2 linked regions of the Homo sapiens genome follow. The protein of the gene in region 2 purifies or fractionates together with the protein of the main gene of each other region. This does not show direct contact. Each region holds a gene or a part of one and is shown on either strand. Other genes may lie near its edges.

Region 1 (3,500 bases), on a different chromosome or scaffold from region 2:
CAGGGGTGATCAGGAGCCCTTGGGAGACACTGGCCACCCCAGCCCCATTCCTGAGCCTGCCTGACCTGTGAGCACAGTCTCTGGCGTGGTGAGCACCTCTTCCAGGCCCTCTGCGGGTACCCGCCACAGTCGGATCCTGGCGTCCTCACCAGCTGCAGAGGACAGACAGGGGCTCATCATTGCTGAGCCCAAGACCTCTGGGCTCCCCAGCCCCTATCCGGGACCCAGGACCCTCCCTCAAGCCCAGGCACCCAGCCTCCTTACCCACAGCGAGGCGATGGGGGTCAAAGGGGTCCCAGGCCAGATCAGTCACAGCTGCCCCATTCTGCAGCGTGGGCAGTGCCGTGTCGGGCAGGCGGCCAGGCTTCCGTAGCTGTGGGAGGTGCCCCCACCCCGAGGCCCATCAGTACCAGGCAGAAAAGCCAGTCCCCAGGGGCTGCGGGCAAGCAGCATGTCTGGGAGCCCACCCTCTGCAGCAGAGGCTCCCACCGCTGGGTGACCCAAGCTCTCTGCCCTGACCACCTTGCGCTCTGAGCCCCAAGTGCCAACCACAAGGCCCCAGAGAGTGAGGGGGCAGCAGCGTGAACTGGCGGGAAAAGCTCCGGCTTAGGGCTCAGGTGGCCGGGCTTCGGATCCCAGCTCCACCACTTACACAGCTGTGTGACCCGGGCAGGTCACTAAACCTCTCTGTGCCTCTTCTCCCTCATCTGTAAAATGGGGATAAAAGTGGCAGGCCCCATGGCAGGTGGCTGGGAGGATCACAGGACAGGCGGGCAGGAGCCTGACACAAGGTTTGTGCTCCCTGTGTTGTGTGGGTAGCTAAGGCCCTCCGCGTCTTTGCCACAGGCAGGGAACTGAGGGGCAGCCCTGGTGGGGTGGGGCCCTCACCTCAAGCACAGCCACCTGTCCCCCGCTGCTGAGCAGCGGCACGGCCACACGCAGCTTGTTGGCACAGAAGCCGTCACTCTCACCAGGTGTGGTGAGGTTGAGCCCCTTGAGGTTGGTGATGTGGCTGTCTCGGTGCAGGACAGTGCCCTGAGCATGGCGGAACTTGGAACTGGGGCCTGGCAGGTGGCAGGGACATGGAACCACGTGTGAGGATGCCGTCCCCGCCCGCCCTGCACTCTTTGAGTCCCGGCTGCCCACTCCCCTCACCCCAGGTGGATGTACAGCATGGACCTAGGCCCAGGCCTTTGCTAATCCAGTGGATGCAACTCGCCCAGGAATAATGTCTGGAATGATATACCCTGTTCCATGGTGGCTCGGGGAATCTTGGTGGAGCCCAGGGCTTTGGCTGCTCAGAAGCTGGTGGCCCCAGCCGCCCTCCTATTTTGCAGGTGAGACTCAGCCACCACACCCCAGCCCCCAGGACAAATGACCCTGCCAGTGAGTCTGGGTGAGGGGGGTGCCCTGCATGAGGCCTGTGCTCAGCAGTAGGGTACACAGGAGGATGACGGGGAGTGGGGCAGACAGGGCTCCTGCGGTAGGGGTGAGCTCCCCGTCCTGCCTCCTTACCCAGCAGGCTCTGCAGCGACCTCAAACTGGGGCTGGTCCCGATGCCACTGGTGCTGGAGAGTGAGGGCCCCAGGCTGGAGGGCGTGGAGGGCGAGGTCAGCGAACTGGGAGGGGAAGAGAAACCCTCCTGGGGAGGGGCATGGGGTCAGCCAGCCTGCTCCTAGGTGTACTGGCCAAAAGGAGGGGGTGCCAGCGGACTCCAGGGTCACCACTCTGGGCCCCCTGCGGACTGGAGGAGCCCCCACTGTGGGCATGCGACAGGAGCGGCGGGGGGCACGGGCATAAACGCAGACACACAGGGAAGCAGCCGAGCTTCAGACCGCGGGGACAGCAAGTGGCAGCTGCTGGCTCCCAGCCCTGCAGGAGGGTGTGCCCAGTGGGTTAGATCTGCCAGTATTTTAAGAGAAGCCAGAAATCTAGATCTGTATGAAAATTCTTGCTTTTTAAGTGTTTGCCCAATTTAGAAAGCACTGTGCAAGTTCCTTCTTTATGCTCCACGTGTTTCTCTGTCTCTGTTACACTTGACAAAGAAGGTTGGGGCCAGGCGTGGTGGCTCAAGGCTGTAATCCCAGCAGTTTGGGAGGCCGAGGAGGGCAGATCACGAGGTCAGGAGTTCAAGGCCAGCATGGCCAACATGGTGAAGCCTGACTCTACTAAAAAAAATATAAAAATTGGCCAGGCGCGGTGGCTCACGCCTGTAATCCCAGCACTTTGGGAGGCCCAGGCGGGTGGATCATGAGGTTAGGAGTTCAAGACCAGCCTGGCCAACATGGTGAAAACCCGTCTCTACTAAAGATACTAAAGATACCAATTAGCCAGGCGTGGTGGTGCGCGCCTGTAATCCCAGCACTTTGGGAGGCCCAGGCAGGTGGATCATGAGGTTAGGAGTTTAAGACCAGCCTGGCCAACATGGTGAAAACCCATCTCTACTAAAGATACTAAAGATACAAATTAGCCAGGCGTGGTGGCGCACGCCTGTAATCCCAGCTACTCAGGAGGCTCAGGCAGGAGAATTGCTTGAAACTGGGAGGCGGAGGTTGCAGTGAGCCGAGATCGCACCATTGCACTCCAGCCTAGACGACAGGGCGAGACTCATCTCAAAAACAAAAACAAAAACAAAAATTAGGCCAGGTGCAGTGGCTCATGATTGTAATCCCAGCACTTTGGGAGGCCGAGGCGGGTGGATCACCTGAGGTCAGGAGTTCGAGACCAGCCTGACCAACATGGTGAAACCCCATGTCTACTAAAAATACAAAAATTAGCCAGGCATGGTGGCGGGTGCCTGTAATCTCACCTACTCGGGAGGCTGAGGCAGGAGAATCACTTGAACCCAAGAGGCGGAGATTGCAGTGAGCCGAGATCACACCATTGTACTCTAGCCTGGGCAATAAGAGCGAAACTCTGTCTCAAAAAATAAATTAAAATATAGTCGGCCATGGTGGCACATGCCTGTAATCCCAGCTACTCGGGAGGCTGAGGCAGGAGAATCGCTTGAACCTAGGAAGAGGAGGTTGCAGTGAGCCGAGGTTGCGCCACTGCACTCTAGCTTGGGTGACAGAGTGAGACACTGTCTCAAAAAAAAAAAAAGGCCGTTCAGCCGGTGAACACTCAGGGCAGCCACTGCAGTGTCGCTGAGGGAGGATGGGGGCGGCCCTGGTACTTACGCTTGCGTCTGCATCACCCACGGGTGTCTCCATCACCGCAGGCTGGGCTGTGTCAGGGAGGGGCTCCGCAGGGGGCACCAGACAGGAAGTGAAGCTCGGGTGGGGCCGGCAGGCGGGGTTGAGGCTGACCTTCTGCACCTGCATGGAGGCCGGCAGTGGGGAGATGGGGGCATGGGCTGCCCGGTCAGGAGGGCCCCCATGGGAGGGTCAACTGGGTAGGGATGGGGGGCACCCAGCAGGCCAGACTGAGTTGGCACACAGCCACACGGGGCTACCAGGGACTCGGGGAGGCTGGGAGAGGTGAGCCAGCCCTGGTCCTAC
Region 2 (3,500 bases):
GGGTGGATCACTTGAGGCCAGGAGTTTGAGACCAGCCTGACCAACATGGAGAAACCCCATCTCTACTAAAAATACAAAATTAGCAGGGCATGGTGGCGCACACCTGTAATCCCAGCTATTTGGGAGGCTGAGGCATGAGAACTGCTTGAACCCGGAAGGTGGAGGTTGCAGGGAGCCAAGATCACGCCACTGCACTTCAGCCTAGGCAACACAGCAAGACCTTGTCTCAAAAAAGAAAGAAAAAAACGGTATACTCTTTCAACCCTTGTATTTAGAAATCCCTTCCACTGCGGGTCGCTCTCACTCTGTCCTCAAAGATGCCCCAAAACAAAGGCCCAGCAGAACGTGTGCCAGAAAACAGTTCTTCCCCATCAGCCTCCTCTCTTCTATACCTAAATAAAACTAATTCTTTCACAAAATTAACAGCTCTTCAAAGTTCAAGGAAAACTGAAGTACAATAACGGTAGAAATAAGAGAGAGTAACTTACATTTGTCAAGAGCTACTATGATGGAAGAGAAGAGGCTACTATGAGCCAAGGCACTCAGCTGTGATTTACATATATTATCCCATTTAATTTTTATTTCTTAGTCAGTGATGGATCGGGATATCATACCCACACTCCAGGAAGCCTATTAAAAACCTTAGAAATGCCATTTACAGTGAATTAAGAACAAACTTTCTGGCCGGGCACGGTGGCTCACACCTGTAATCCCAGCACTTTGGGAGGCTGAGGCGAGTGGATCACAAGGTCAGGAGCTCAAGACGAGCCTGGCCAAAATGGTGAAACCCTGTCTCTACTAAAAATACAAAAAAAAAAAAAAAAAAAAAATTAGCTGGGCGTGGTGGCAGGCACCTGTAATCCCAGCTACTTGGGAGGCTGAGGCACGAGAATCACTTGAACCTGGGAGGCAGTGGTTGCAATAAGCCAAGATCACGACATTGCACTCCAGCCTGGCAACAGGTGAGACTCCATCTCAAGCAAGAGAGAGAGAAAGAGAGAGAGAGAGACAAGGAAGGAAGGAAGGAAGAGAGGGAGGGAGGGAGGGAAGGAGGGAAGGAGGGAGGGAGGGAGGGAGGAAGGCAGGCAGGCAGGCAGGCAGGAAGGCAGGGAGGGAGGGCAAACTTTCTAGAATGGAGTAAACTTTTCACATCATTCAGGTTATTTATCAGCTCTACAAGGGACTGGGTTCTAATGAATTGTGTCTCAAGTGACATATTTGCCATTGACAGACCTTAAGGAGAAGCACTTGCACCAGGTAAGCAAGTGTGTGGTCACTTACTTAGTAATGTATGCCCCTAAGTAGCTTCGAATCACTGTGTCCGTGGTGAGCAGGCAACTCTCAGGCAACGAAATAATCATCTGTCCCTCCTGGCCAAAAGGAAAGTAAAGTTGAGGACGCCTATGCTTTGGGAAGGACCCATGAGTATGAGTCTTACAAAGTCGTTGATCCCACAATCACCTACCAGTAACCCACTGTAACTCAACCAAAAGCCACCAATGAGCCTACCAATGGAGTCGCTCCCAACTCTGCGAGTCAGCAGATGCACACGAGGCTGCTCCAAGGCGAGGCCCCACAGCCCCAACAAAAATGAAAGGTCAATTATGTGACTGACACCCACAAGCAGTCAACCCTTCACCAGAATGAGTGGTGGAAACATGCTGACAATTCAAATTATACTGTTTCTTCACTTTTTTTTTTTTTTTTTGAGATGGAGTTTTGCTCTTGTCTCCCAGGCTAGAGTGCAATGGCGTGATCTCAGCTCACTGCAACCTCCACCTCCCAGGTTCAAGCGATTCTCCTGCCTCAGCCTCCCAAGCAGCTGGGATTACAGGCACCCATCACCATGATGGTGCCTAATTTTTGTATTTTTAGTAGAGACAGGGTTTCACCTATTTCTTCACTTTCTTATGCCAGGAAATAGTGCTACCAATAGTAAACAGACAGAAACTACCCCCAAAAAATTGTATCCAGTGAAATCCAAGTGGCCAGGTGATGGTCTGCTCTCTACATAACCCACGCTTATGAGCTAAAGAAAGGCCAGCATGCCCAACACAGTAAGCGTCGAACTCTACCACTTGCAAGAGTATCGTTTTCAGTGTCTCCCACGGAGATAGAACCATGGAAAGAAAAATTAGATGTAAAGTAATAGAAAACAGTTTAAATAAACACTGCATGAAGAAGCCAGATGTAAGACTCTCCTTTAATTCTAACTGGCATCTAAGTTGGTTAAAAATCTCAGCCAAGGCCAGGCGCGGTGGCTCATGCCTGTCATCCCAGCACTTTGGGAGGCTGAGGCAGGTGGATCGCTTGAGGTCAGGAGTTCAAGACCAGCCTGACCAACATGATGAAACCACATCTCTACTAAAAATACAAAAATTAGCTGGCCATGGTGGTGCACACCTGTCATCCCAGCTACTCGGGAGGCTGAGGCAGGAGAATCACTTGAACTCGAGAGGCAGAGGTGGCAGTGAGCCGAGATTGCGCCACTGTACTCTAGCCTGGGCGACAGAACGTGACTCCGTCTCAAAAAAGAAAAAAAAAATCTCAGCCAAAAAATCTTCCGGGATCAATTTCTGGTTTCCTCATCTGTAAAGCAAGATTAAGCTGGATGATCACTATGGTCACTTCCCATTCCAACATCCTATGATCTTTTGGTTTGAAAATATTTGGGTAAATCTCTTTATCATCAAAATGCAAACTGTACACTTCACTGTGCATTTCACTATATGTAAAATATGTCTCAATTTTCAAAAACTTTTGATAAAACAACCATATTTGAATGTACATGTGAAACAACTGCCAATTATTTCATGACCTAAACAAAAACTACCTGTAGTTACTGCTGCATACATGACATTTCTCATCCCCAAATTCTGCTACAGAATAAAGTCAATTACACCTTCCTCCAAAAACAAAAATATTGTACAACAATATGAATGTACTTAATACTACTGAACTTCAAAATGGTTAAGATGGTAAGTTTTATGTTAGATGAGCTTCCGGGTTTATGGATTCGTGGGCTGCTTCCACCTGCTAGGAGGGTGGTGCACTCTAACTCGGGGACAGAAGCCCCTGTGCTCAGGACTCTTGCAGACCTCTATATCTGGCTGTTCATCTTCCATAATCAACTGGTAGATGTTACATCCAAGAGGAAACAATCCAGGCAAGGAAGCACAAGCTGATCAAGATCTGTAGTTACGTGGCTGCCAAGTTGTGGTTTTTGATAGATTGTCCCATCAGGGAAGACTATCCTCAAACAGAGATTTTACGAGCATTAAAGGCCAAATGTTGTGAGGAGGAACTGGACTTTAGGGCTGTGGTGATGGATGAGGTGGTGCTGACAATGGAGAAAGGAAACTTGGGTCTGCGGATCAATGGAGAGCTAATCACTGCCTACCCACAAGTGGTGGTAGTCAGAGTACCAACCCCTTGGGTGCAAAGTGATAGTGACATCACTGTTTTGCGCCATCTAGAGAAGATGGGATGCCAGTTAATGA

The links. The genes of interacting proteins can lie anywhere in the genome.
Region 1: the proteins of SETD4 (region 2) and CORO7 purify together in Homo sapiens (affinity purification with mass spectrometry; one large-scale study listed by BioGRID and IntAct). This does not show direct contact.

The regions. Positions count from the first base shown.
Region 1 is NC_000016.10:4,361,097-4,364,596, forward strand, and holds part of CORO7 (coronin-7), read right to left. Parts: intron 3,318-3,500; coding exon 3,180-3,317; intron 1,643-3,179; coding exon 1,516-1,642; intron 1,065-1,515; coding exon 889-1,064; intron 374-888; coding exon 265-373; intron 153-264; coding exon 66-152; intron 1-65. Other genes in the region: CORO7-PAM16 protein, read right to left, coding at 66-152, 265-373, 889-1,064, 1,516-1,642, 3,180-3,317. UniProt on the Homo sapiens protein: F-actin regulator involved in anterograde Golgi to endosome transport: upon ubiquitination via 'Lys-33'-linked ubiquitin chains by the BCR(KLHL20) E3 ubiquitin ligase complex, interacts with EPS15 and localizes to the trans-Golgi network, where it promotes actin polymerization, thereby facilitating post-Golgi trafficking.
Region 2 is NC_000021.9:36,047,027-36,050,526, forward strand, and holds part of SETD4 (SET domain-containing protein 4), read right to left. Parts: intron 1,371-3,500; coding exon 1,282-1,370; intron 1-1,281. UniProt on the Homo sapiens protein: Protein-lysine N-methyltransferase that methylates both histones and non-histone proteins. Via its catalytic activity, regulates many processes, including cell proliferation, cell differentiation, inflammatory response and apoptosis.